4 linked regions of the Homo sapiens genome follow. The protein of the gene in region 4 purifies or fractionates together with the protein of the main gene of each other region. This does not show direct contact. Each region holds a gene or a part of one and is shown on either strand. Other genes may lie near its edges.

Region 1 (7,324 bases), on a different chromosome or scaffold from region 4:
AAAGTAATAATCTCAGAGTCAAAGAATAAATAAGTTAAATCACATAAAACAGCTAGAATTTGGCCACTTTTAACCAAATAGATAAAAGTCCAAAATTTTACTACTACTCTGTTGATGAGGCTGTTGGAAAACAGGCAGTCTCACAGAGTAATTAGTACTAAGCCTTAGGGAGGGCAATTTGGAAATCACACTTTTGAGAATTTATCCCACTGACTCTCTTGACCAGGTGGGGAAAAGACAGATACACCACGTTTTTAATTTTATACTGGAAAGCCAAATGCCCATGAAGAGACATTAAATCAAGAATGGCAAATTCACACGCACAAAAAATAAAAATAAAAATAAAAAAAGAAATTAAAGAATGGCAAATTGAAAACATGGAACACTATGCAGCAGTTTTTTTAAAAAAATAGAATGACGACACTGATTTTTTAATAGGAAAAATACATCTAAGATAACCAAAAAATGCAAGATGTAGAACAGTGGAAAGTATGTAACCCTTTGCATAAAAAGAGACTGAAAAACTAGGAAACATCTTTGCTTGTTCTGCACCAAGAGAAACTAAGCGGGAAGGAACTGGACAGATAGAAGACTAGATGTGAGAAAAACTTCCGTGTGTGTGTGTGTGTGTGTGTGTGTGTGTGTGTGTGTGTACTTTTTAGCTATATATTTTACCTATTCAAATATTAAATTTTAAAAAGTACTTTTAAAGTATCAGACATACAGTTCAAGAACTCAAATGTTGGCCGGGCGCGGTGGCTCACGCCTGTAATCCCAGCACTTGGGAGGCCGACGCGGGCGGATCACCTGAGGTCGGGAGTTCGGGACTAGCCTGACCGACATGGAGAAACCCTGTCTCTACTAAAAAAATACAAAATTAGCCAGGCGTGGTAGTGCATGACTGTAATCCCAGCTACTTGGGAGGCTGAGGCAGGAGAATCGCTTGAACCCAGGGGGCGGAGGTTTCAGTGAGCCGAGGTCGCGCCATTGCACTCCAGCTTGGGCAACAAGAGAGAAACTCCGTCTCAAAAAAAAAAAAAAAAAACTCAAATGTTAGCTGCAATTATGTTGTTATTATTATTAGCAAATTCAAAATACCTCCTTTCTGAAGACTTTTTCTTACTCCCTCTGCACAGAAACCTCATCTCCCTCCTCTAGCTACCAAGTTATTGTTTAAGGAATTTATTACTTTCTACTCCAGTGCAAGTAGAGTAAGGGGTTGGTCAATGTTTCATTCATTTTTAATATCCAAGAAGCCTTGCTTGCACATAGTAGGTACAAACATTTTGGAGTAACAGTAACCTTACAAGTACTCCGAAGAAAAAGGTGACCATTTATAAAAAGATTGTACTCTGTCATTAATCCTAAGACCTGAAAATTGAAGAAGTTTAATAACTGATAGCAACCTGTAGTTGCTAATATTCTTTCAACTACTGCCCATCCAAAATCGCCCCTTTCACTTTTTCCTTTTTTCTCAGACTGTCCCTGACATTGACATCATGTTCCAAGCCACGACCCTACATGTACCAACTCTCTGTAACTCACTGCAAACTCTGAAATGTCTTTTCTCATAAGTCCCAACATCTGATGCATCGCTTCTGTCAAAAGGGCATTTGTTGTCTCCTTTTAGACAGAGGTTCACGTATCAGTGAGTGAACAAAGTGCCCTTAACTGGAGAAGACCTAACACTTGATTCCTGGTTCGCTCAGTATTTTGTTTGTTCTCCTGGTATGGAGGGTATTCTGTAACTGACTGCTCAGTAGCCCAATTCTAAATGTCATTCCAGCATACCAAATAATCCACTGACAGCTCAACAGTCACTTTTCATGCAGGCCCCTCCCCTTCCCTCCTCCCTCAACCCTCAAGAGCTCCTTCTCTCACAGTGACAGACACACTGGCAGTTCAGAAGACCTTTTCCTCAAGCGTCCTTCCCTGCACGTACAAGACCACCTCCCCAGCTCTCATCATCCCGCGAGCCAATACGGTCCCCAATAACATCCCCTCCCAGCCAATCCAAATCACAACCTAAGTCTCTTCCCAAGAACCAGGCTTTACAGCCTTTCCCAACAAGTACACACTTGACAGCTCGACACGAGCTTCCCCAAAAATCATTTCCCCTCACTCCCCTCCTACCCCATACACTGGCTCTTTTCTCGCTATCATTTACCCACCCTGGCTTCCCCAAAATTCACAGCCCGGTTTCCTAAACATGCTCTCCGCTCTCCTCTCCCCTCCTTCTCCTCCCCACCCCCTTTCCACCGCTGACAGCTCAGTCACCTCCATCCCCCTGTGGCTGCACCCTCCCCCGCACCCTCCCCTTGACAGCTCAGAGTGGGCTCCCAGTGCTCCGCTCCAGGCCCTCCCGCGACGTCCCCGGCCCAGGGTCGCCTCGCCCGCGGGGAGGGCTCCACTCACCCGCTCTCCCGCATCACGTTGCTGTCCCCGCAGTCGCAGGCGCCCCCGGCCTGGCTGCGGAACATGTTGAAGTCGTGTCCGGTGTGGTCGCCCTGGTGGAAGCACTCGGCGCACAGCGACATGCAGGGCGAGATGCCGCACGTCCGGCAGCGGTAGGCCACGAAGTTGGCTGTCCAGACCAGGCCGCAGAGCGCCGCGGGATCGTAGGCCCGCACCGCCGCGCAGAACTCGTCGTAGCCGCCGCCGCCCGCCAGAAGGCACTTACACCACTCCAGGGCCTCCTCCTCGGCCGCCCCCGGACCGCCCCCGCCTCCGGCCGCCGCCGCGTCCTCGCCGCCGGCAGCCGCGGCCAGCGGCCGCTCGGCGCTCAGCACCCGCTCCAGCAGCGCCTGCAGCTCCTCAGCACCTGCGCGGTTGTCCGGCCGGCTGAGGGCCGCCTTGAGGTGCGCGGCGGTGGCCGCCTTGTCTAGGGCCAGCCCCGGCGCGGGCAGCTCGGGCTGTGACGGCTGCTGGCCCCCGACGGCCGCCGCGGCCGCCGCCGCCATGATGAGAGCTCAGAATTTGGAGAGTCCAGGGCCAGCGGCTCCTCCAGGGAGAGTGAGGGAATAGACTGCTGCGATTGCTCGGCCCGCCCAACTCTCGCGATACCCGGAGCGTCCGCGCTCCTCCGCCCGCAGCCCCGCCCCTACACACGCCCCCTCGGGCTGCAGAGCCTTCCTCCCGCCCCTCTCTCCTGGGCGCCTGTGGACCAAGCTAGGCTCCCAACTTTCTAAGTTAAGAGCTACTGAAATAAAGTACTCACCTTATAGGAAATCTTTAATAAGGGCAATTATTTCTTTATTTGCATAGACTACAGGAATTATTCACATCATCTTTCAGATGTACTTTAGGCATCTGCATTTTGTCTGAGATGTACATTCCTACTGTTATCAAAGTCCAGCGGGCGACAGAATGAAACCCCAACTTAAGGAAAACAAAAACTGTAGGAAAAGCAATCCAAAGAAGAACAGAAGGCCAGGCGCGGTGGCTCACGCCTGTAATCCCAGCACTTTGGGAGGCCGAGGCAGGCGGATTACTTGAGGTGAGGAGTTTGAGATCAGCCTGGCTGACATGGTGAAACCCTGTCTCTACTAAAAATACAAAAATTAGCCGGGCATGGTGGCGCACGCCTGTAATCCCAGCTACTCCGGAGGCTGAGGCAGGAGAATCACTTGAACCCAGGAGGCGGGGGTTGTAGTGAGCCGAGATCGCGCCACTGCACTCCAGCCTGGGTGACAAAGCGAGACTCCGTCTCTAAAAACAACAACAACAACAACAACAACAAAGAAGAACAGGAGTGTTTCCAATCCATAACCTTGTGTTTGAAATGAATGAAACATAATTAAAACAGGTTATTCCTGGTCTTCTACATGAGTTAAGTATGTCACGATCATCATATAACAGTGATAAGTTAAATTTGCTCAATAATTTTACGAATCACTAAATTATAAACTAAATAAAACTTTATGTATTAACTTTACATGCTAAAACTTTGTATGTTTTAACTCATTTGATTCTCATAACAGATAACTTTGAATTCTGCTATTCCTAGAAGTAGCAGCCTCAGACACTTCTCTACTTCGTCATCGTCCATTCACTCTTTTTCTTCTTCCTATAATAATGCAAAGAGGTGTCCATCCACAGGCTTAAACGCAATCCTGCAATCCTTTTACTTAACCACTGGATCCTGCCTTCTCAGGATCCCAACTCCATCCAATATCCTCTTGCATTTTTAACCCCTCTCTTTCTATTAGCTCAATTCTTGTCAGAATTTGTCTCCTCCTGTCTTAAAAATAATTGAAAAAATAATAAAGCTTCCCCCATTACTAAGCATCCAACCATTCTTTTCGTAGGCCACCTTTCTCTTTCTCTTTCTTTTCTTCTTTCTTTTTTTTTTTTTTTTTTTTGAGACAGGGTCTCACTGTCGACCAGACTGGAGTGCAGTGGCGCAATTTCAGATCACTGGAAGCTTTGCCTCCCGGGCTCAAGCGATTTTCCCACCCCAGCCACCCGAGCAGCTGGGACCACAGGCTCGCGTCATCAGACCCAGCTAATTTTTGTATTTTTAGTAGAGACAGGGTCTCCTTATGTTGCCCAGGCTGGTCTCAAACTCCCGTCTCAAGCAATCCGCCCATCTCGGCCTCCCAAAATGTTGGGATCACAGGGGTGAGCCACCGCTTCCGGGGCCACGTTTAATTGTTCACATTTACTCTTTCTTCTTCCTAAATTTCCATTCGCTCCACAATCTGCTACAACTTAATTTCTGCTCCTACTTTATGAAGCCCGACCTCTTTCCAGTATTTGACACCACTACCTATTCTTTTATTTTCATTTCCACTGTCTTTTTTTTTTTGAGACGGAGTCTCGCTCTGTCTCCCAGGCTGGAGTGCAGTAGCTTGATCTCGGCTCACTACAAGCTCCGCCTTCCGGGTTCACGCCATTCTCCTGCCTCAGCCTCCCGAGTAACTGGGACTACAGGCGCCCGCCACCAAGCCCGGCTAATTTTTTTGTAATTTTAGTAGGGACAGGGTTTCACCGTGTTAGCCAGGATGGTCTCAATCTCCTGACCTCGTGATCCACCCACCTCGGCCTCCCAAAGTGCTGGGATTACAGGCGTGAGCCGCCGCGCCCTGCCTCTCCACTATCTCTTCTTTGGGTTTCTTTGACATCACCACTCCTGTGAGAATTGCAAGTGACACAAATGACCTAAAAATTGGGAAACAAAGTTACAATAAAATAAGGCATGAGAATGGAGAAGGAGGTAAAGGTGAATGGAGATCGCTACTTTTTGAGCCGAGACTTGGGAAACAAGAAGAGTCACTCTGGGCCATACAACAAAGTGACTGTGACTTTCTCTCCCGCATCCCTTTCACTCTGTCTTTCCCCATCCTTTGAGGGCCCGCAGGTACTCATGGCAAACTAGAGGGTAATGAGCACGCGACAGGCGGCGAGGACTGGCGGTGGGTCAGCAAGTAGCGCAGGCTTTGCAGGCGGAGGGGATGGGGCAATGAGGCCCCCAGGTGGCCAGCGGAACCCCGGCTCAAGATAAACGCTGCAGCTCGGCGCCGGGCCGCTGGGCGGCGAACGCGTGCGCGCGTGCGGCCTGGCGCTTCCGGCACCGGCCGAGGTGCGGGTCGCCTCCAGAGGTGCGTGGTCGTGGCGCGAGGGATCCTGAGGCTGCTCCAGCAGTGCGCCGCCGCCGTCTCCTGGGGCGGCTTGGGTTAGCCGGGAGGTGGGTCAGAGGCTCGCCCCGTGCCCTGCGTCCGGGCGTCTCCTTAGGGCGCGTCTTCGGGTCCGGCCAGCGGTGCTGAAAAAGGGAGAAGGTTGGGGGTAGGGAGGAAACAAGATCCCAGTTCAATAGATTTCTCCGCAGATCCTGTGCCTTCAAACCCTACGAGTCCATACTTTAAAACAAAATGAAGAAAGTAAGGCTTAAGGAACTAGAGAGTCGCCTGCAACAAGTGGATGGATTTGAAAAGCCCAAGCTACTTCTGGAACAGTATCCTACCAGGCCGCACATTGCAGGTAGGGCGGCTGGTTCACCACGCCCCGGCTTTCGGCGTTAGTCCAGTCTACTCTGTGATAAAAATAGAACAGTTATTTGGATACAGAGAATGTCTAGAGAAATTCTGCCCTAAGATCACCTGTCGCGTTAGAGAGGCCTTCCTTGACACTGCAGCTCAAGGCACACCCTCCACAGACATACACACTATCATTTTACTGTCTAGTTTTCTGCATATCCCTTAACACTGCCAGACATCTTTTTAATGTGTTTTTTTCTCTTCTCACATTACAATCTCTGAGGACAAGGAATTTGTTAGACTTGTTCATACTTGAATTCCCAGTGCCCAGAAGAGTCGCTGGTACTATTTAGGAGCTCAGTAAACATTTACTAAATAAGGATCAGTTTCCCATTGCTACTAATTGCCTACGCAAGGATTCTTGTGCTATATACTCTGCCCTAGAAATGAATACCAGAGTTGATAGTGGAATGATAGTTTAACAAAATCAGAGTATGTGCTGTGTAAAGATGAGCATGCATATTTTAACAGATTTTCTGAGCATTAGCATTGTTGCTTCATGCCAGATATTGATACTGGGAGTACAAGAGAGAATACAGGACAACATATATTTATGTTACCGAAGTCATTGGGAAACCTTAGGGGAAAAAAATTTTATTATTATTATTTTTTGAGATAAGGGTCTCACTCTGTCACCCAGGCTGGAGTGCAGTGGCATGATCACGGCAACTGCAGCCTTGACCTCCAGGACTCAAGTGATCCTCCTACCTAAGCCTCCCGAGTAGCTGGGACTACAGGCATGCACCGTCATGCCTGGCTAATATTTTTTATTTTTTGTAGAGACAGCGTCTTGCTATGTTGCCCAAGATGGTCTCAGACTCCTGGGCTGAAGCGATCTTCCCACTGGGGCCTCAAGAAGTGCTGAGATTACAGGCATGAGCCACTGAGGCTGGCTCCTTAGGAAAATTAATTTTCTGAGAGTACCTGCAAGGAGTTTTTTCCAGTTCCAAAATAGTTGTTTCTAAGTTGTCAATGAAAGTCAAGGAGAATACATGTGTATTTACACTTAACTCCAAGATACTGTCATGATTCCAACCAAAAATTCACACAAAACTACTGTGTCTAGGTTAAGACCAGTTTTCTCAAATAATGACTTACTAGTCTTCTGACTGTAGGTTTTTTTAGTGGAATCCAGTTTAAAAAATAATAACAATCTGGCCAAGTACAGTGACTCACCCCTATAATCCCAGCACTTTGGGAGGCCAAGGCAAGAGGATGACGAGCCCAGGAGTTCAAGATCAGCCTGGGCAATACAGTGAGACCCCAGCTCTTAAAAAAAAAAAATTAGC
Region 2 (7,024 bases), on a different chromosome or scaffold from region 4:
AGATGTTATGCTAATTCCAAATTATTATTTTTTACTTTTTCCAAAATAGTTTTTTTCCTTAACACTTAGCCAAATTTGAAGTATTCTTAGTGTTTCTGTTATTATGAGTATTCTAGAAATTTCTTTTAATAAGCTTTATTAAGTCAGAAATTTTTCACTGATTTTGACTCATCCAGTACTCTTATTAAAATTAGTAATGAAGCTATTTGTATTGAGTTTGTAGTTAATAGCCCTAAAAGGGAGCTGATATGAATATATTAGGTTGGAACTTACTCCTCAAATGTTGATGTAATAGCTAACCTGACTGAATAAAAGAGAAAATGTGTAGTGTGGAGATTTTTTTAAAAATCTATTATTGTCTTGCTGAGGTTCCTCCAAAAAAAAAAGTCTGAGACCGGGTGTGGTGGCTCACGCCTGTAATCCCAGCATTTTAGGAGGCCAAGGCAGGTGGATCATGAGGTCAGGAGATCGAGACCATCCTGGCTAACACAGTGAAACCCCGTCTCTACTAAAAATACAAAAAAAAAAAAAAAGTCTTTGCATAGTAAACAAACAAGTAAATGTTAATTTGCATCCTATTTTACATAAAACAGTGCTTCAATCCTGAAAACTGCTCTGGAAATTCATGTCCTGGCTTTCTGCTCTTTATTGTTTGAAACTTTTTGTTATTGGCTGGAGTTTCATTTACGCTCTTCATTCCACCAAAGTTGGATTCCTTAATCAAAATGGTATCCCCCTGGCCTGGTGCAGTAACTCACGCCTGTAATCCTAGCACTTTGGGAGGCTGAGGCTGGCAGGCAGATTGCTTGAGACCAGGAGTTCAAGACCAGTCTGGCCAACATGGTGAAACCCCATCTCTACTAAAAATAAAAACATTAGTCAAGTGTCATGGTGCGCACCTGTAGTCCCAGCTACTCGGGAGGCTGAGATAGGAGAATTGCTTGAATCTAGGAGGCAGAAGTTGCAGTGAGCTGAGATTGTGCCACTGCACTCTAGCCTGGGCAACAGAGTGAGACTCTGTCTCAAAAAAGAAAGAAAATGGTATCCCCTTTTGTGTGTCCATATTCCCTACTTCTACCTCAAGCACTACTGGCTCCTTTGGCAATATATGTCTTTTAAATTATATTCCTGAATATTCTAATTGATTTTTTTCCTTTGTTTTTAGGGTCATTTTTGTGGTTTTCCATGATGTCTCAAAGCATGGGTGGTGATAACCTCAGTAGCTTAGATACTAATGAAGCAGAAATTGAACCAGAAAACATGAGAGAAAAGTTCTTCAGAAGCTTAGCAAGGTTACTGGAAAACAAAAGTAATAATACTAAGATATTTTCTAAAGCAAAGTACTGTCAGTTGATAAAGGAAGTGAAAGAAGCTAAAGCTAAGGCGAAAAAGGAATCAGTTGACTACCGTCGCTTGGCTAGATTTGATGTTATCCTTGTACAAGGAAATGAGAAGCTAATTGAGGCTGTAAATGGGGAAACAGATAAAATACGGTATTACTTACACAGTGAGGACTTATTTGACATTCTGCATAATACACATCTCAGCATTGGACATGGTGGACGTACTCGCATGGAGAAAGAGTTACAAGCGAAATACAAGAACATCACAAAAGAAGTTATAATGCTGTATCTGACCCTCTGTAAACCATGCCAACAGAAAAATTCAAAACTCAAGAAGGTTCTAACATCAAAATCAATTAAGGAAGTTAGTTCAAGATGCCAAGTAGATCTTATAGACATGCAGTTGAATCCTGATGGGGAGTACAGATTTATTTTGCATTATCAAGATCTCTGTACAAAGTTAACTTTTTTGCGGTCATTAAAGTCTAAAAGGCCTACGGAAGTTGCACATGCTCTTTTAGATATATTTACAATTATTGGAGCACCCAGTGTCCTACAATCTGACAATGGGAGGGAATTTTCAAGCCAGGTTGTCAGTGAACTCAGTAATATTTGGCCAGAATTGAAAATTGTCCATGGGAAGTCTCAGACCTGCCAAAGCCAGAGTTCTGCAGAACAAACTGAGGATATCCGAAAGAGGATTTTCTCCTGGATGCAAACTAACAACTCATCACACTGGACTGAATTTTTGTGGTTCATTCAGATGTCCCAAAATCAGCCCTATCACAGAAGCATGCAACAGACTCCATGTGAAAGTGCATTTAGCTCTGAAGCTAAACTGGGCTTGTCCCATTCTCAGCTAACTGAAGAACTTGTTGCCAGCTTGCATACAGAAAATGAATTAGATCAGGCTGACAAAGAGTTAGAAAATACTTTAAGAGCCCAGTATGAAGAAAACATTGAGACTGGAACAGACAGTAGTGATATTGAAGAGAATCTTTCTGTCACTCCTAAGGTGGCTGAAAAAAGCCCTCCTGAGAGCAGACTAAGATTTTTATCCTGTGTAGTTTGTGAAAAAGAATGCACAGGTGTTAATAGTTGTATATCATGTGATGGAAATATCCATGCAATTTGTGGAGTGCCCTCTCAACATGGGACTGAGGGCTGTGGTCGGCAAATAACTTGTAGCCTTTGCTATGAAACCAGCACAATGAAGAGGAAACATGATGAGATTCAAAGAAGTTTGCCTGTTAAACCTTCCAAAATGCTAAAGCCATCAGGGACACCATTTTCACCAGACAAAGTAGGAGACTGGGTAAGATTGAATATCTGCCGTAGATGAAAGCAGGGGAAGAATCTCATTACAGTGTACTGTGAATAAGTGTTGTGTGACAAGGTATATGAAAGCACATTTTTATTACCTTGGATATATTTCCCCCAAAGAAGGCCTAATTACTTTTAATGCTTCTTCTCAAATCAAGTGAAGAAGTATTTGTAGGGGTAGGGGATGATAAATTTGCTTGGAAGATATGGGTTTGTGTTGGGAAAGACTTCAGTTTGGGAATTTAAATGGAGAGCATGAAATAGAACCAAAAAAATTTAAAATCAATAGGCTTTATGAAGTAGGGTTAATGTTTTGAAATATGGAGGTTACTTATGACTTAAACTAGTGGTACGCAACATGTGATCAGTAGAGCAGTACTGGTATAAAAACTCCAGTCCATAAGGAAATAAATATAAAAATTAAGCGTAAATATTTAGAAACCTTTATAACAATTGACATTACTGCAACATCCAAGCACATGATTAATGGACTCATCTTACTGAATAGAATATAGACCAATTTAGGTATTGTTAAACTCTCAAGGTGAGTCACATGTGGTGGCAGTTACACACTAGTCAAACACAATAGGTCCCCATTACAACCTGTGATACTTTATGTTTCGTTTATCAGCCATAACCCAAAGATGTATAAAACTCTGAGAAAATATAGGCATTTATTTATTTTTATAACTTAACTTTAAAATAATTTTTTATTTTAATCAAATCTAGTTTTTAACTTGTGGTATAACACTGTTAGCTGAAGGAGGAAAGTAAAATTCATATTATTTACTTTTATTCCTAATTTCAGATGGCGAAACAAGCTTCACTGGACTTTTTTGTCAAGAAAAGACATGCCTTTTCTGAACACAGTAGTAGTAATAAAAGAAATGTTAACAATAGAAGTTATCCTGAAGAAGGGAAAACCAAAAGAGTTCATGCTAGTTTCACTCGGAAATATGATCCTTCATATATTGAGTTTGGTTTTGTAGCTGTAATTGATGGTGAAGTACTAAAACCACAGTGTATTATTTGTGGAGATGTACTGGCTAATGAAGCAATGAAACCATCAAAACTTAAGCGACATTTATATTCAAAACATAAAGAAATAAGTTCACAACCAAAAGAATTCTTTGAAAGAAAGAGTAGTGAATTGAAAAGCCAACCAAAGCAGGTGTTCAACGTTTCTCATATAAACATTAGTGCTTTGCGGGCTTCATATAAAGTAGCACTTCCGGTTGCCAAGTCTAAAACACCATACACAATTGCTGAGACACTAGTGAAAGACTGCATCAAAGAAGTTTGCTTGGAAATGTTGGGTGAATCTGCAGCAAAGAAGGTAGCTCAGGTACCACTTTCCAATGACACCATAGCTCGACGTATTCAGGAACTGGCTAATGATATGGAAGATCAACTCATAGAACAAATAAAACTAGCAAAGTATTTTTCATTGCAACTTGATGAATGCAGAGATATTGCTAACATGATAATTCTTTTAGTCTATGTGAGGTTTGAACATGATGATGATATAAAGGAAGAGTTCTTTTTTTCAGCCTCTTTGCCTACAAACACAACTAGCTCAGAACTGTATGAAGCTGTAAAGAATTATATTGTTAACAAATGTGGTTTGGAATTTAAATTTTGTGTAGGAGTATGTTCTGATGGTGCAGCTTCAATGACAGGAAAACATTCTGAAGTGGTAACCCAGATTAAGGAACTTGCGCCAGAATGTAAAACAACACATTGCTTCATTCATCGAGAAAGTCTTGCCATGAAAAAAATATCAGCTGAACTAAATAGTGTACTTAATGATATAGTAAAAATTGTGAATTATATAAAATCTAATTCATTGAATTCAAGATTATTCTCTTTATTATGTGATAATATGGAAGCTGATCATAAGCAACTGTTACTGCATGCTGAGATACGGTGGTTATCACGGGGAAAAGTTCTGTCAAGAATGTTTGAAATACGAAATGAACTCTTAGTGTTTCTGCAAGGCAAGAAACCCATGTGGTCCCAACTTTTTAAAGATGTGAATTGGACAGCCAGACTTGCTTATTTGTCTGATATCTTCAGTATTTTTAATGATCTTAATGCTTCTATGCAAGGGAAGAATGCAACTTATTTTTCAATGGCAGATAAAGTTGAAGGACAAAAACAGAAGTTAGAAGCTTGGAAAAACAGAATTTCTACAGATTGTTATGACATGTTTCATAATTTAACAACAATTATCAATGAAGTAGGTAATGATCTTGATATTGCACATCTGCGAAAAGTTATCAGTGAACATCTTACAAATTTGTTAGAATGTTTTGAATTTTATTTTCCATCAAAAGAAGATCCACGCATAGGAAATTTGTGGATCCAAAATCCATTTCTTTCATCAAAAGATAACTTAAATTTAACTGTAACTCTACAGGATAAGTTGTTGAAGCTGGCTACCGACGAAGGATTGAAAATCAGTTTTGAAAATACAGCATCACTTCCTTCATTTTGGATAAAAGCTAAAAATGACTATCCTGAGCTTGCTGAGATTGCTTTAAAATTGCTGCTTCTTTTCCCCTCAACATACCTCTGTGAGACCGGATTCTCTACTTTAAGTGTTATTAAAACAAAACATAGAAACAGTTTAAATATACATTATCCCCTGAGGGTAGCATTGTCATCAATCCAACCTAGATTAGACAAATTAACAAGCAAGAAGCAAGCTCACTTATCACATTAAAAGCTTTAAATATTGATATGTAAGGTATTGGTTCAAAGTATGCATATAAGCATTGAGTGTGAGGAATTTGCTATTTCACTTTAAACTTTCTGTCTAGTTACAGTTATGGAAGTATGAGAAGTTATGAGTGAAACAGCAATTTTCTATATAAATTGCCTATATGTATATTTTCAATTAAGAATGTGTACAGTTTTTATAATTCTATTTTTCCTCATATTTGTCGTATTTATTAAAATATAATTTTAAATCTGTTGATTCTAATATTAAAACATTTGATCTTATATTTTGTGTCTTCTTCTTGTATTTCATTAGCATGTTAAGATTGTAGGACAACTTCAGGATGGGAGATGGTTTCTTTGAAATAGACAAGGTCAGTGAAAGGAAGTGAATTCAAAGGGGTAGGCTTAGAATTCAAATGCAGGGGACAGGTCAGTAGGGTATGAAGTTTGTTAAACTGATCCAGAGTGGTTAGGTTGGAAGTTGATGTTGTTTGTTTTGTAGGTGCATGTTTAGACAAAGATGGAAGGGAACACTTATTTTGTAATGGTGTTATGGCCTTGGATTCATATTGATAAATTTATTTACTTATTTATTTTTGAGGCAGGGTCTTGCTCTGTTGCCCAGGCTGGAGTGCATTGGTGCAATCTCTGCTCACTGCAACCTGTACCTCCTGGGTTCAAGTGATTCTCTTGCCTCAGTCTTCCGAGTAACTGAGATTACAGGCACCCACCACCATGCCTGGCTAATTTTTGTATTTATAGTAGAGATGGGGTTTCACCATGTTGGCCAGGCTCATCTTGAACTCCTGACATCAGATGACCCTCCCACCTCGGCCTCTCAAAGTGCTGGGATTACAGGCGTGACCTGCTGCGCCCGGCCGATAAATTCTGATTTCATAAGGATGGGCGATTGGGCCATACTGACAAGTTTATGTTAGGTGGTTTCTAGATTTTGCTAGAACTGATTGCCTTTAAGGTGCTCTGGGACAAAGTCAGAAATTATTGGCACCTCAATTAGATTTAACAACCTCTATTTTGTTTGGAGATGATTCAGAAAAATGCCACAAATATCTGCTCTTGTGTCTGTGAACTCATTTAGAATAATCGAAAGCAAATTAGTCCGATAAAACAGGTTCTTTAGCATCAAAACATGACAGAATCCATGAAGAAAATATCTTTTCCTAGACAGGGTAGCAATTTACAGTAAGTGCTTCGTTTCAAATAAATGTGATATTCAAAGTTAAGGAAAGGAAGGCTATTTAGTGATTCAGAATGTTACTAATAATTTAACCTTTTGGTAATGGAAGTTTCAAGGATCCTCCAAACCTTTGAAAGTAGAGGAAAGGTTCATATTTAGTCCTGAAACCTTAATTGGATTATGTTTTATTGTGTGTTTGTTTTAATCTTACAGCTTTTCAAAAACAAAAAACCTTATCATGGTGGATAGATTTAGAAGACAGTGGTTTAATTTCTCCCACTGACAAATTATATGCCCTCTTTCTTATCTGACCATATTCTAGAACTAAGGGATTTTAAAATGTTTTACAGTTTGTTTTATTGATTGAATAAAGTATTGTGTTTCCCATTTTTAATTTCAAAAGGCAATGTGGTGATTTTATATTTATTTCTATAAA
Region 3 (7,727 bases), on a different chromosome or scaffold from region 4:
ATTGTTCTCAACTGGAGTTGTTGTTTTGTGATTGGAAATATGTGGGGTTGTGCAACTAGCCACCAGGGAAGATGAATGCCCTGCAATTAGCCAAACAGTCCCGCAACATGGAGAATTGCTCCCCCTAAAATGTTTTCTCTCTGATATAAAGTTATAAGCGAAAGTCAAGAGCTTTTCAATTGCTGCATTACTAGTTGAATAAGACATCTGCATGCCTGGATAGTGCAAATTACCTATCTTTTTTTTTTTAAATCTCTGTGCCACTTATGAACATTGCAAAAGATATTGCTTACTTTCTGTATTGGGTCACACGACCTCTGCATAGTATTCCTCTTCAAAGGTACTGCAAATATCAGTTTTGATAGAAAAATATCAAAAGTAGCTCTCTGACCTAAGTGCTTCCCATTTATTCTACTTGCCTTATACCCCTTTCCTGGCCTGCCAGATGCTTTTAAGAACCTATTTTTGAGAACTGCCAAGTATTATTTTACCCATTTTACAGAAGAAAGTGAGACTTACAGAGATTAAGTCAATTGCTCCCTCAAGGTCACAGAGACAGCAGGTTCCAGAGGTGAGCTTCAAACCCAAGCATTCTGACTCCAAACTTCAGGTGCTTAACTGCTATGTCTGAGTTGTTATTTATATTATGTTTTTCAGTCATATTTGACTCCTTTTACATCATTGTGGAATGCATCCAAATGATTTTGGGATTACTTCTTCATCTTAAATGTCTGAAGCTGTACTCAATTCTCAGCCTAGATACTCGCTATATTAATATGAGTATGTCGCTTATCTTCTTTGTATCTATCACTAAAAGAAAGCAATTGTGCTAGAAATTTGCTCTCCAGTGTCTCTTGATATTAACTTTAATAATTCCATCAACAATATCTAGACCTTTTTATTCTCAAGACATATAATTTTCAATTATGCCATATCAAAACATAATTGATATGATTGCATAATATCTTTTTGTTACTATTTTAAAAAATTGTTTCCACCAGGAAGTGAAGGTAGGTGTCATAAGTGCTATCTGGCTTGGTGCAGTGGCTCATGCCTGTAATCCTAGCACTTTGGGAGGCCAAGGCAGGTAGATCGCTTGAGCTCAGGAGTTCAAGACCAGCCTGGGCAAGATGGTAAAACTTCATCTCTACAAAAAAAACCCACAAAAAATTAGCCTGGCATGGTGGCGCATGCCTGTAGTCTCAGCTACTTGTGGGGCTGAGGTGGGAGGATCACTTGAACCTGGGAGGCAGAGGTTTCAATGAGAGCCAAGATGGCACCACTGCACTCCAGCCTGGGGAAGACTGAGACCTTGTCTCAAAAAAAAAAAAAAAAAAGTGCTATCTGACAGGCTTTGGCCCATTGTAGTAATCTACAAGTCTACCAAATTTAGATCTTATATTGTAATATCTTCTTTCCCCTGATCCCCAAATTCCCTTCATAATTCTCATTATTTCATTGACAAAAGCCCAAGGATGAACAAATTGTTTTCTTTTGAGGTAAAACAAAACAGATCTAATAATTGCGTATGTTTATGCTTGATAATAATAATAATATATTTTATGAACATCCCTCCCAAGTCCCGATTGCACTGTTTTGATATTCAGTCACGGTATCTTTATTCATAGCCTGCCTTTAATGAGAATAGTAGAGGTCTTTGTGCATAAACACAAGAAGTACAGTGCTATTTTCATAGTGTTTAAGAAGTACTTATTATAAAATAATGTACTCTGTGTTTTATAAAAGGATCAAACAGTAAAGAAATATAAAAAATGAGAAGTTTCCCATTTCCTCTAAAATATCTGCTTTTGCTGAATCTCCTTCCCAAGAAGAATTAATAATTCTTCTGTAAGTGTTATGATATTTTGTTGTATGCAACATAATTTATATGAAAAATTAGCACACACCTCAAACTATATACCATTTATTGGATTTAAAGTGGCTATCATTTAATCATTTAAAAAGCTTTTTTTCTAAATACAGTTGTCTTTCTAAAATGTTTAAATTAGGGTTTTTGGTAGTATTATTATTGTTGAAAAGGTAATATGTGCCCATGATATAAAACTTGAACACAAAAGAGAATAAAATGTAAAGAAAATCACCTTTCCACTGCAGATCCATAGTCTCTATGACCAGAAGGATTTTTATACATATGAAATCATAAATATCTGTCTGAAAATAATGCAACATAGTATATATTCTTTTGAAAAAGTGGAAGCATGATGTATACGTTACTTTGCTTTGCTGTCTTAGATATTAGAGATCAATAGGCCAGGTGTGGTGGCTCATGCCTGTAATACCAGCACTTTGGGAGGCCAAGGCTGGTGGATCACTTGAGGCAAGGAGTTCGAGGCCAGCCTGGCCAACATGGTGAAACCCATCTCTACTAAAAATACAAAAATTAGCCAGACATGGTGGCTGCATCTGTAGTCCCAGCTACTTGGGAGGCTGAGGCAGAAGAATCTCTTGAAACCTGGAGGCAGAGGTTGCAGTGATTCGAAATGGCACCACTGCACTCCAGCCTGGGTAACAGAGCGAGACTCTGACATACCAGCACATCTCAATCTCTTCCTGCTTCTTGGCCATACTGTAGCCATCACAGAGTAGTATCATAACCAGTTAACCAGTCTTTTAAGAATGAATAATTAAGCCATTTTTCACTCTTTTGCTATTAAAAATAGTAACGTAGGTTTAAAAAGCATCCTTGCTCATCTCTGTACACATATTAAGAATATATCTAAAGGATAAATTCCTGCAAGTAAAATTTTCTACAAAAGAAATTGCTGAGTCATAGAAAGGGGATATTTTAAATCCTTGATACATATTAAGCTGCATCCAATAAAGTTTTCTCAGTTTAAGAGAGTAAAAAAGGCCTGATTTATAGCATTTGTATTGGGTGCTATCTTTTTTTTTTTTTTTTTTGAGATGGAGTCTCACTCTGTGGCCCAGGCTGTAGTGCAGTGACATGATCTCGGCTCACTGCAACCTCCGCCTCCTGGGTTCAAGCGATTCTCCTGTCTCAGGCTCCCAAGGAGCTGGGATTACAGGTGTGCACCACTACGCCCAGCTAAGTTTTGTGTTTTTTGTAGAGATGGGGTTTCACCCTGCTGGCCAGGCTGGTCTCGAACTCTTGACTTCAGGTGATTCGCCCACCTCGGCCTCCCAAAGTGCTGGGATTAATAGGCGTTAGCCAATGCACCCAGCCTAGTGCTGTCTTCTGAATGATTCTTTATTACAGTACACTAAATAAAATGTCTGTATTTATGCAACTCAGGGTTTGTCAGCAAATATTAGGAGGTAAAACTAATTGGAACTGTTTTAGACCCTTTTGGCCCCTAAATGCCATATCATATTACACAAAAATACCCACCTATAGTTATACATAAATATTGAGGTGAGTTGCAGTTGATGTTATATTTTTAAAAGAAAAATATTAATTAAATATGTATTAATATACATTAGTGTTTTGAAGTCTATCCATTTTTTCCCCCAGCCATACAAAGTTTGGTAGGATTCTAAAAGCTTGTAGGCCCTCAAGCACCACTCCTCTAGTGCTTAATGGGTTAAATGTCCCTAAAGCTAATTTGAAAAGCAAATTGCCTCATTCTTTCTCTTCATATCTTTCTTTCAAACTGTAAATTTTAAGAGCTGTTTATTCCTTATTCTCCTTGTTCTTAATTTGTTTAATAAAGTTTTAGATCTTTAGCGAATATTTTGCAACAACAGAAATATCCCCAAATTTCCTGGTGCTAGAAAACAGCCACAATAGTAAGTAGGTCAAGTCTGTATTGCTTAGGGAACAGGGAGATTTTTGTTTTAAAGCAGTGATTCTTCTGAGAGTAGGGCTCTGGGCGCAGGTGAGTGGTAAACAATCCTTTTTCCTGCAGGGATGTTGCTGTTGTGTAAAAGCAAAAGCATTTTGTGTAAGGATGTTAGGCTCCAGTAAGTATTTCAAAGCCACATTATCTTTCTCATTAGGGGGAGTTTCTCTCTGTACTTTAAAAGAAGATAATGATGCTTGAAAAAGCTCAAGATTGACTAACTTTTAGGAAGCTGCCAGAGTTGTGCATAGACGTCCTCACTACAGTAGCTTCGTTATGTCTTACGAACAATTTAACCTTCACTTCTAGTCATCGTTTCGTCATCGTAAGCACTGGGTCATTACAGAGTTCAGTGTACCTAAAACGCAAGCTGTGACTGATGAGAATCCAAGCTGCAAACTGGGCGGCTTGGGCAACTGTTTTCTTAACCACCCTCCACGTTGTGGCTTACGTCTTTTAGCACCGCCCTCAGGGCAAAGGATGGTGGTCAGAGGTAACTACCACAGTAAAAGAAGGCTATTTATGTGGTCTGTTTACAGTTACCCGGTTTCAACACTAAGCCAGCTTTCCGCCACGTCTCGGGCGAACCTCCGGCCTGAGGTCACAGAGACGCCCGGGTGGCTCTCAGGAGCCAGCATGGCAGCCTCCTCAGGACGGGTACTCAGGAATTTCGCCCGCAGGGACTAACACCACTTGGACCCAGGGACTCCAGCTTCACTCCGCTTTGTGCACTGGGTGGGGCGGTCGCGGTGACGTTTCAGGCAACGCCTCTGCTGTCAGCCAATAAGGAGCGGGAGACGCGTCGGGCCTGCGCTCAATGGGCCGCGCTGGTCCCGCCCCACTGTGATCGTGAGACTGCAGACCCGCTAATAAAATCCACCCCAACAATCGCTGTGTGCCGCTTTAGTGCGCTCGCCGTCGGCTCTACCTGCGTGCTTTAGCTCCTTCTCGCCTGATCCTTCTGTCTCTCCCAACCCCGGACACCCGGCTTCGACTGGTTATATCTTCGGTGTTCTTTTCCTCTCTTCTTCTTTCGCGGTTCAGCATGCAGGAAAAAGACGCCTCCTCACAAGGTTTCCTGCCACACTTCCAACATTTCGCCACGCAGGCGATCCATGTGGGCCAGGATCCAGAGCAATGGACCTCCAGGGCTGTAGTGCCCCCCATCTCACTGTCCACCACGTTCAAGCAAGGGGCGCCTGGCCAGCACTCGGTGAGCTGGGTCTGTCTGGGGCTGTCCACAGTTGGGCGGTAAAAGAGATACGGCTTATGAATTTGAAAGGCATGTAAGTAATTTATAATATGACTTATAAATTAGGAAGGCAACCGAAAGATGTTTCTACACTGTAATTCTTGCAGCACAGCTTTGTATCGGATGGTCCAGTGATCGTATTTCTTTTGATAAGCAGGACTGGAAGGAGCCGTTTGTCCAGCTTGCCATTTAGATTTGGCCTGAAATTCAGGTGATTTTGACAAATTTGCAATTAAAAATCGAAGGTCATAACTTTTTTGAGTTACCTTTAGCAGCATAAATTTTAAAGATGTAGTACGGAGTCAGCTTAAAAAATATTAAGGGTCTGATAACTTGACTAGAATTAAGATTGTTTCCAGTAGCTGTATGAATAGTTATTGAGTACCTACTATATGCCAAATACGTGCTCGTATATATCATGTGTATTACATGTATTGTCTCATCTAATCCTAACAACAACCCTAGTCTGAACCGAATTCTCATTTTTTCCCAATAAAGAAGCTGAGATTTAGGGAGTTAAGTAACTAGCCTTAGACTAGTAAGTATTGGAGATGGAATTCAAACTTTAGAAACTTGAGGTTGCTTTAGGAACCAACTCCTAGGCACTCAGCTACACTATGCTATCTCTAATAATGCTAGTAACAATTTAGCCTATTGCGTCATTTAAGCACTGTGGCTTAGTGATTAAGAACACAACTCATGACCGGGTGCAGTGGCTTACGCCTGTAATCCCAGCACTTTGGGAGGCTGAGGCGGGTGGATCACCTGAGGACAGGAGTTCGAGCCCAGCCTGGCCAACATGGTGAAACCCCATCTCTACTAAAAATAAATAAATTAGCTGGGCATGGTGGCGGGTAATCTCAGCTACTCGGGAAGCTGAGGCAGGAGAATCGCTTGAACCCAGGAGGCAGAGGTTGCAGTGAGCCAAGATCTCACCATTGTGCTCCAGCCTGGGTGACAAGAGTGAAACTCCAACTCAAACAACAACAGAAAAAGAGAACACAAATCTTATAGTCAAAGGCTAGGTTTGCATTCTGACACCACTTCTTCTGAGCTGGGGGACCTTGGGCAAGTTAGTTAACCTATCAAAACCTCTGACTGATCCTGTATAAATGGGGATAATAATAGTATCTACCACATAAGTTGTTGAGATGTATTTAAGGCTGTATAGTACATAATAATTACTCGATGGTAATTTGTTTTTTCATGATGTTCACATTTACACTATTTCCATTTGATCCTCACAACAACCAGGTCAGAAGGCAGGACAGGTATTATGTACTTTTTATAGAAAAGGAACTGACACAGAGTCATACATGAATGATCTGTAAAGCCTACGAAGGAGCCCTCTTTGTTAATCACATAGCTTTTTTCCCCCTTTTGGTGGCATACTTGATGGATCTTAGAGAATTTAAAAGTTGCTGAGATTTGTAAGAATTAGTTAAAGTCTGTAAGTCCAAAGCCTTGATTATGCTTTGGAAACCACTTCAGTGTGTTATATAAGTTGAGGAAAATCCTTACAGACAGTCCCTTGTTTTGTGAGATACAGTTCTAAGGCCATTTCTACAACTGGTTTAGAATACTCTTTACTGTATTTTAGAATCAAAATATGTACACAGCCTCTCTTTCTTTCTTTCTTTTTTTTTTTTTTTTATTTTTCAGAGAGAGTCTTACTCTGTCACCCAGGCTGGAGTGCAGTGGTGCGATCTCGGCTCACTGCAACCTCCGCCTCCCGGGTTCAAGCGATTCTCCGGCCTCAGCCTCCTAAGTAGCTGGGATTACAGGCGCCTGCCACTGCGCCTGACTCATTTTTTATTTTTTTTAGTAGAGACGGGGTTTCACCATGTTGGCCAGGCTGCTCTTGAACTCCTGACCTCGTGATTCACCCGCCTTGGCCTCCCAAAGTGCTGGGATTACAGGTGTGAGCCACGGCGCCCGGCTCACAGCCTCTCTTTCAAACATGCAGTTCGTTTCTTGTGTAGGGTTTAATGAAAGTGTAGCTGCCCAAGCTTTGGAACTTAGTGCAAAAGTTTACCATTCAGGTGTGATATTAATAATTAAATGTTTCCAGGAAGCCAGCAGGGATGGTTAAATCCACAAAAACTCTGCTTAATATCTTTTTTTTTTTTTTTTTTTTGAGACAGAGTCTTGCTCTCTTGCCCAGGCTGGAGTGCAGTGGTGCGATCTTGGCCCACTGCATCCTCCACCTCCTGGGTTCAAGTAATTCTCCTACCTCAGCTTCCCGAGTAGCTGAGATTACAGCTGCCCGCCACCATGCCCAGCTAATTTATTTATTTTTAGTAGAGACGGGGTTTCACCATGTTGGCCAGGCTGGTCTTGAAATCCTGACCTCAGGTGATTCACCTCTGAAAGTGCTGGGATTACAGGCATGAGCCACCGCGCCCGGCCCTTTTTAAAAATCAGCTAAGACCACTAAAGGGAATTTGAAGAGCTGAATGAGAAACGGGAGGTACCTTTCTGTGGCAGAAGCCACGTGAATCCAAACTTTTTTTTTTTTAATCTGCAGGGTACAGCTGCAGGTCATGGTAAGAAGGTGATGGTGGGGAGGGGTAAGGATATCCTGGAGCCCTATAAAATATGTCTGCTCAGGTTGGGCGCGGTGGCTCACGCCTGTAATCCCAGCACTTTCGGAG
Region 4 (7,024 bases):
CACACCAAGATAATACATTTTTTCTCAAGTCTCCAACTTCAAGAATTGTACAAATATGACTGTGACATCGCTTAAAAATACAGGAAAATTAAAAAAATTGTACAAATAAAATGAATCATGTCTATGACTTATTAATGGAACTTCAGTGGCAACTCAGAGGTATGTGACCCTTCGGGAGGTGACAACACTCCAGATCTGTGAGTGGCCCATGGGCCTGGGAAGAGCGGGAGCCTAGCCTGGAAGGCAGCAAGTCCTGCTTCTCTTTACTTACAGCCCCCTGCTGTCCCAAAGCCTTGGAAATCACACACAGAGAACACAGGTGTTCCCAAGGATTAAAAGGAAATAAATGCTAAGTGGCAAAGTTTATAAAGATGTTGACAAGAGTATTAACTTTGCTTAAAAAAAAACTAAAATCAGCCGGGCGCGGTGGCTCACGCCTGTAATCCCAGCACTTTGGGAGGCCGAGGCAGGCAGATCACCTGAGGTCAGGAGTTCGAGACCAGCCTGCCCAACATGGCGAAACCCTGTCTCTACTAAAAATACAAAAAATTAGCCGGGCGTGGTGGCAGGCGCCTGTAATCCCAGCTACTCAGGACGCTGAGGCAAGAGAATCACTTGAACCCAGGAGGCAGAGGTTGCAGTGAGCCAACATCATGCCGCTACACTCCAGCCTGGGCGACAAGAGTGAAACTCCATCTCAAAAAAAAAAAAAAAAAACAAAATACTAAAATCTCTTAGACAATTTTCCAGTTTATCAACACAGGTTTGCCAACTTAAACATCATCAAGACACACTGTTTTTCAGGCTGGATGTGGTGGCACATGCCTGTATTCCCAGCACTTTGGGAGGCTGAGGCAGGAGGACTGCTTGAACCTAGCAGTTTGAGGCAGCAGTGAACTATGATGCCACCACTGCACTCCAGCCTGGGCAACAGAGCAAGACCCTGTCTCTTAAAAAAACTTACCTAGCAACCTGTAATGGCAGCTTCCAATTAAACAGAAAAGGCAGCAAGTATCTAGCCAAATTACTTTATGGAAAAAGACTTATAAAAATATAGACCCTTGGAATATCCATGCAATGGAATATTCAGCCATCAAAAGGAACAAAGTACTGATACATGCTCAAAACATGAAAAGTGAAAGAAGGCAGACACAAAACGTCACATAATACATGTGATTCAACTTATATGAAATGTCCACAACAGGTAAATCCATGGAAACAGAATGGGGAGCAACTGTTTAATGGGTACAGGGTTTCCTTTTCGGGAGGATAAAAATGTTTTGAAACTAGACAGAGGTGATGGCTGCATAACACTGTGAATGTACTAAGCATAACTGAATTGTTCATTGAAATGGTTAATTTTATGTTATGTGACCTTCACCTCAATTAAAACAATTTTTTTTTTTTTTTTTTGGTAGAGACAGGATCTTGTTATGTTGCCCAGGTTGGTCTCGACTCCTAGGCTCAAGCTATCCTCCCGCTTCAGCCTCCCAAAGTGCTGAGGTTACAGGCATAAGCCATTGTACCCAGCCAAGATAATTTTTTTAGTTTAAAAAGTTTTCTAAGGCCAGGCGTGGTGGCTCATGCCTGTAATCCCAGCACTTTGGGAGGCCGAGGCAGGTGGATCACGAGGTCAGGAGATCGAGACCATCCTGGCTAACACGATGAAACGCCGTCTCTACTAAAAATTCAAAAAATTAGCCGGGCATGGTGGCGGGTGCTTTAGTCCCAGCTACTTGGGAGGCTGAGGCAGGAGAATGGCGTGAACCTGGGAGGCAGAGCTTGCAGTAAGCCAAGATCGCATTACTGCACTCCAGCCTGGGCGACAGAGCAAGACTCCGTCTCAAAAAACAAAGAAACAAAAAAAGTTTTCTAAAAAAATTAAGACAAGTAAAAACAAAAAATAGAGCTCTGGAAGAAAAGCAAAAATAATAAAAATGTATTCTGGAAAAGATTAAGTTGGATGGGGAAGGGGATTTAATGTCTTCAAGTATATGAAAAACTGCTGTGCAGAAGGTGAAGGTAACCATGTTCACCTTTAATGACACCTGATTCTTTAGTAACAGAATTGTAATAAAAAAGAATTATGCTAACACATAAAGAATCTCTGTTCCTACTTTAAGTGCTATTACCCTCAACTGAAATTTGTAATCTTGCTTTTGGATATGGAGAGAGATATATATATATTTCTATATATATATTTCTATATTTATATATATATTTATATTTATATATATATATATATATAAATTTATATATTTTATATATATATATATTTTTTGTTTTCTTTGAGACAGCCCAGGCTGGAATACAGTGGTGCGATCTTGGCTGACTGCAACCTTCACCTCCTGGGTTCAAGCAGTTCTCCTGACTCAGCCTCCTGAGTAGCTGGGATTACCATGCCCAGCTAATTTTTTGTATTTTTAGTAGAAACGGGGTTTCACGATGTTAGCAAGACTGGTCTCGAACTCCTGACCTCAGGTGATCCGCCTGTCTGGTCTTCCAAGGTGCTGGGATTACAGGCGTGAGCCAACACGCCCTGCCGGTTTTTGGATGTATTTCAAAGGCATTTAGTCTGGAACCCTTGGGTGGACTCAGTTCAGACCTTTGTTTCCAGTAAATGATTGTTCCTCACCTGCCTCAGGTGAGGACAGAGGCTTCTGCTTACCTTCTGACTGTTCCCCTGGTCTTTGGTGTGAGCTCTGTGATCCCTTAAAAGTCGGTTCCTCTGGCTGAACCTCCTGTTTCCATTGGGATCTCAGTGATTCTCTGGTTGCTCCCAAAGGGGCCATCTCCTTCATGAGTACTTTCAAGTCCTTCTCAGAATCTAGAACCTGAGAACAGACCCCATTATCTATCACTACAAATTCCTGCCTAAGCTGGACTTTACAACTCCTAAGAGTGGCATTAAAAAATGTGTAACATAAGGAAGCAGAAGAGAAAAATCTAGGAGCCACTGTATTGCTGCTGTAATAAAATAAAAATTAATAGAATTAGGTATTTGAGGGGCAGTAGCTTACGCCTGTAATCCCAGCACTTTGGGAGGCCGAGGCAGGTGGATCACGTGAGGTCAGGAGTTCAAGGCCAGCCTGGCAACAAGGTGAAAGAAACCCCGTCTCTACTAAAAATACAAACATTAGCTGGGTGTAGTGGTGTGAATCTGTAACCCCAGCTATTTGGGAGGCTGAGGCAGGAGAATCACTTGAACCCAGGAGGCGGAGGTTGCAGTGATCCAAGATCACGCCACTGCACTCCAGCGTGGACAACACAGCAAGACTCTGTCTCAAAAACAAAAAAAAACTCTTTGAAGTGGTTAAGATTATTTATATGACAGCACCTAGCATAGAGCCTGACACACCAGAACTGTTAAAAACTGAAATATATTTGTCAGAAGAGAGAATGTCAGCTTTCACTTTAGCAAACCCCCATGACTTCAGCACTAGGCCATTTCCTCTGCCCCCCAAATCCAGTATCAGTTCTGTCTTCAAAAGAGACCTCGCATTGGTCCTCTCTCTTCACCTCATGGCTCCATCAGGGTCCAGGACACTATCTGCTGTCTGCATCCTCTCTACTGCTGGACCCTCCAATCCATTCTCTCTACATGGAACCCAGTGTGATCTTTTTAAAATCTAGAGTCCTGTCCCTCCGTAGTAACAGCACTCTTCAGTGGCTTCCCACTGCACACAGAATAAAATCCAGACTCCTCTTTGCAGCCTAAAAGGCCCAGCATCATTCTGCCCGGCCTCCTCCCTTTCTCTCACAGCACTCTTCCCCAGTCTCTGAGCTCCAGCCACAAGCCCTCCCTTCTTCCTCTCAAACCCGCCCAGTCTTTTCCCACCTTAGGCTCTTGGTATGTGCTGTGCCCTCTGTCTGGAGTACTCTCCTCCCAGCTCTTGGGACAACTGGTTCCTTCTCCTCCTTCAGTGTCACCTCAGAGAAGTCCTGCCTCACAGCCTATCTCCCAACACTCCAGTTATCACATCACTCTGCTCATTTCCTTCCAAGCACTCATCTGAAACGATCTTTATGGTTTACTTTTGATTTATGATTGTCTGTTTCCCCCATGGACCGCGGGCTCCAGCAGGCCAGGGGCCGTGCCTGTCCTGTTCACTGTAAAATCCTCAATATCAACGGTCACTGAAAATCAACTTTTGTCTTTCAGAGCCATCTTCATTCTTTAAGTCCCATGCTTATAACAAACACCCTTAAAGGGAATGAAGAGAGGTACTGAGAGGCAAGTGGGGTCCTGAGAAATTATATCAACCTCTATTACTACTACCCACCTCCACTTCTTGCTCTCTCCTTCACTTTCATGATAGGTAATAAGGTTTGGCTGTGTCCCCACCCAAATCTCATCTTCAGTTGTAGTTCCCATAATCCCCACGTGTCATGGGAAGGACCCGGTGGACGTAATTGAATCATGGGGGCAGTTTCCTCCATGCTACTCTAGTGATAGTAAGTTCTCATGGCTTCCCCCTTCACTCAGTTCTCATTCTTCTCTTTCCTGCTGCCATGTGAAGGAGGACATGTTTGCTTCCCCTTCCGCCATGACTGTAAGTTTCCTGAGGCCTCCACAGCCATGCAGAACTGTGAGTCAATTAAACCTCTTCTCTTTATAAATTATCCAGTCTCGGGTATGTCCTTATAGCAGTGTGAGAACGGACTAATAAATTAGGTTTCAAATAGGTGTTTAACCTATACACTCCTGCACTGTTTTCTTTTATATTAAGAGTGTGGGCCGGGCACAATGGTTCACACCTGTATTCCCAACACTTTGGGAGGCTGAGGTGGGTGGACTGCCTGAGCTCAGAAGGTCAAGACCAGCCTAAGCAACATGGCAAAACCTCACCTGTAATAAAAAACAAAAATTAGTTGGGCATGGTGGTGTGCACCTGTAGTCCCAGCTACTTGGGGGGCTGAGGCAAGAGGATCGCTTGAACCCAGGAGGCTGAGACTGCAGTGAGCCGCATTCATGCCACTGCACTCCAACCTAAGTGACAGACCAAGACCCTTTCAAAAAATAAATAAATAAAATAAACATAAGTGTGATTCCGACATGGTTAAGGATAAGAAGAGGAGAGACCATCAAACAGAGTGATGGAAGGGGAACTGGGCTAGGATGACTCTTGGCATACTGGGATTCCCACTCTATTTATAATAGTTCAGTTCTCCAAGTTCTACCTTCATACAAGTGCTACTGCACCTCTCCATTCAATCTTACTTATGAATAAGAGTCCCAATCCCACAGATTTCAGACTAATTTCCTGAACTTCTTCCCTGATGCATCACCATCAAGCTGCTCTTCCCCTCTCTAAATTAAGTCAAAAGTACTAACTCTTCAATCCTACCAAATTTCATCTATATCCCCCTTCACCCATTCCTCTTCCCACAGCCCGTGCACATCCCTACCTCCTCACTGGGAAACACAAGTATATCTGCTGCCTAGGGCCTTCCCATTCCAGCCATGCAGACTCTGGCACCCAGCAAGCTGCTTCCTGCTCTGATCACAGACCCACTCAGGCTGACCAACGTTCCTCTGACCTGTGCCCTCCATTACTCTAGGCCTCTCCCAGACTTACCCAATTTCAGTTGCCTTCCTCCTACCAACTCTTCCACAACCGAAGCTGGTATGTTACTTTTCCTCTTCCTGTGCCTTTCCCACCTCCCTGCTCCAAGAAAATATAAGCTGGTTACACCAATCAGATCTCAGACCTAGTCCTGACCGTAAGAGGATATTTTATGAATCCATCAGTGTCCCAAACTGAACACTTAATCCCGGCATCAAGAACTAGAGCAAGGCCTGGCTCTAATATAATTTTGTTGAGTGTACAACACATGTCACTCTGCCCTCAAAGAAGCTCCTAGCATGAAACTAGATTTTCATTCACTAGCATCTCTAGTTTTCCTCCATCCCCTGAGTGAAGGAGAGTTGTCCTTTCCCTGGCCTTGTTTTCGAGAATTTTTCTGAGTGTTTTTACCACCTTAATTAGGGACTTCAAATATTATTAAATATATGAATGTCTAGCAGCTGTATCCACAGATGAGAAATTCTTCCCGTATTATAAGGGCATAGGACCAATCCAAGACAGCCAAGACCTTCTGTGGGCAGCAGAGGGCTACTGTGTGTTTCTCAACCAAGCACCTCTCCAGTAACTGGATTCCCCGACAACTTCATAACCAAAACCACAAAGTTCCGACTTCCTTTTCTCACCTGTTGTCCAGGAGCTCTCTGTACATCCTCAACCAGAGCCACAGCTTCCTCGCCGTTTTCTGGATGCTGCTCCCTCACCCAGGTCTGGATCTCCTCTGGCAAGATAGTCAGAAACTGCTCCAAAACCAGCAGCTCCAGGATTTCCTCTTTTGAGTGGGTCTTCGGCCTCAGCCACTGACAACAGAGTTCCCAGAGTTTGCTAAAAGCTTCATGTGGGCCAGTTACCTCCTGGTAGCAAAACTGCCTGAAGCGCTGACGGGAGGCCTCGGAGTCAGGGCTGTTACCCTGGAGGGCTGATTTCTGGCCCTGTGTGGGATCCTTGTTTGAGGATGGGTGTGCCTCGGTACTCTTCACTGCAGCCATCATTTGCTTCAACGAACTGGCTTACTCTGGTTGCCACTTCTACCCTGGAGATCAGAGTCCATCTTTCCCACATCACTGGGAAGCCATGTTCTCCTGCAAGGAATGTCTTTCTGTAATCCGTGGGACATGAGAGTGTCAGACATGTGTAGAGACTCACAGCGGAAAAAAAGGGCTCAACTTTGAAGGATGTCTGAAGAGGATGGAAAAAGACAATATAAACCTATCAAACATTCCTTCACTCTGGTTCTTGTGATTTACTTCCTATCCCTTTCCTTTACTCCCTCCACAAATCTACACCAAGGATCCAAAACACTAGAAATAGATCTAGACCATCCTGGCTAACTGCCTTTGCAAAAACCATTAACAGTGAGAAGATTATGACACTAAAAGAGATAGGATCTAACCAACTCCATCTTGCTTTTAACCTCCAAACTGCCGTTGGTCATTCCT

The links.
Region 1: the proteins of ZSCAN32 (region 4) and UBR3 purify together in Homo sapiens (affinity purification with mass spectrometry; 3 studies listed by BioGRID and IntAct, with this or other methods). This does not show direct contact.
Region 2: the proteins of ZSCAN32 (region 4) and SCAND3 purify together in Homo sapiens (affinity purification with mass spectrometry; 3 studies listed by BioGRID and IntAct, with this or other methods). This does not show direct contact.
Region 3: the proteins of ZSCAN32 (region 4) and CTH purify together in Homo sapiens (affinity purification with mass spectrometry; 3 studies listed by BioGRID and IntAct, with this or other methods). This does not show direct contact.

The regions. Positions count from the first base shown.
Region 1 is NC_000002.12:169,823,144-169,830,467, reverse strand, and holds the start of UBR3 (E3 ubiquitin-protein ligase UBR3), read right to left. Parts: upstream 3,015-7,324; 5' UTR 2,961-3,014; coding exon 2,416-2,960; intron 1-2,415. Other genes in the region: rRNA N(6)-adenosine-methyltransferase METTL5, read left to right, coding at 5,871-5,979. UniProt on the Homo sapiens protein: E3 ubiquitin-protein ligase which is a component of the N-end rule pathway. Does not bind to proteins bearing specific N-terminal residues that are destabilizing according to the N-end rule, leading to their ubiquitination and subsequent degradation.
Region 2 is NC_000006.12:28,570,278-28,577,301, reverse strand, and holds the end of SCAND3 (SCAN domain-containing protein 3), read left to right. Parts: intron 1-1,165; coding exon 1,166-2,658; intron 2,659-3,474; coding exon 3,475-5,391; 3' UTR 5,392-6,767; downstream 6,768-7,024.
Region 3 is NC_000001.11:70,406,550-70,414,276, forward strand, and holds the start of CTH (cystathionine gamma-lyase), read left to right. Parts: upstream 1-4,718; 5' UTR 4,719-4,866; coding exon 4,867-5,034; intron 5,035-7,727. UniProt on the Homo sapiens protein: Catalyzes the last step in the trans-sulfuration pathway from L-methionine to L-cysteine in a pyridoxal-5'-phosphate (PLP)-dependent manner, which consists on cleaving the L,L-cystathionine molecule into L-cysteine, ammonia and 2-oxobutanoate.
Region 4 is NC_000016.10:3,390,981-3,398,004, forward strand, and holds part of ZSCAN32 (zinc finger and SCAN domain-containing protein 32), read right to left. Parts: exon of another isoform or gene 6,765-7,024; 5' UTR 6,578-6,764; coding exon 6,212-6,577; intron 5,628-6,211; exon of another isoform or gene 5,393-5,627; intron 2,835-5,392; coding exon 2,669-2,834; intron 1-2,668.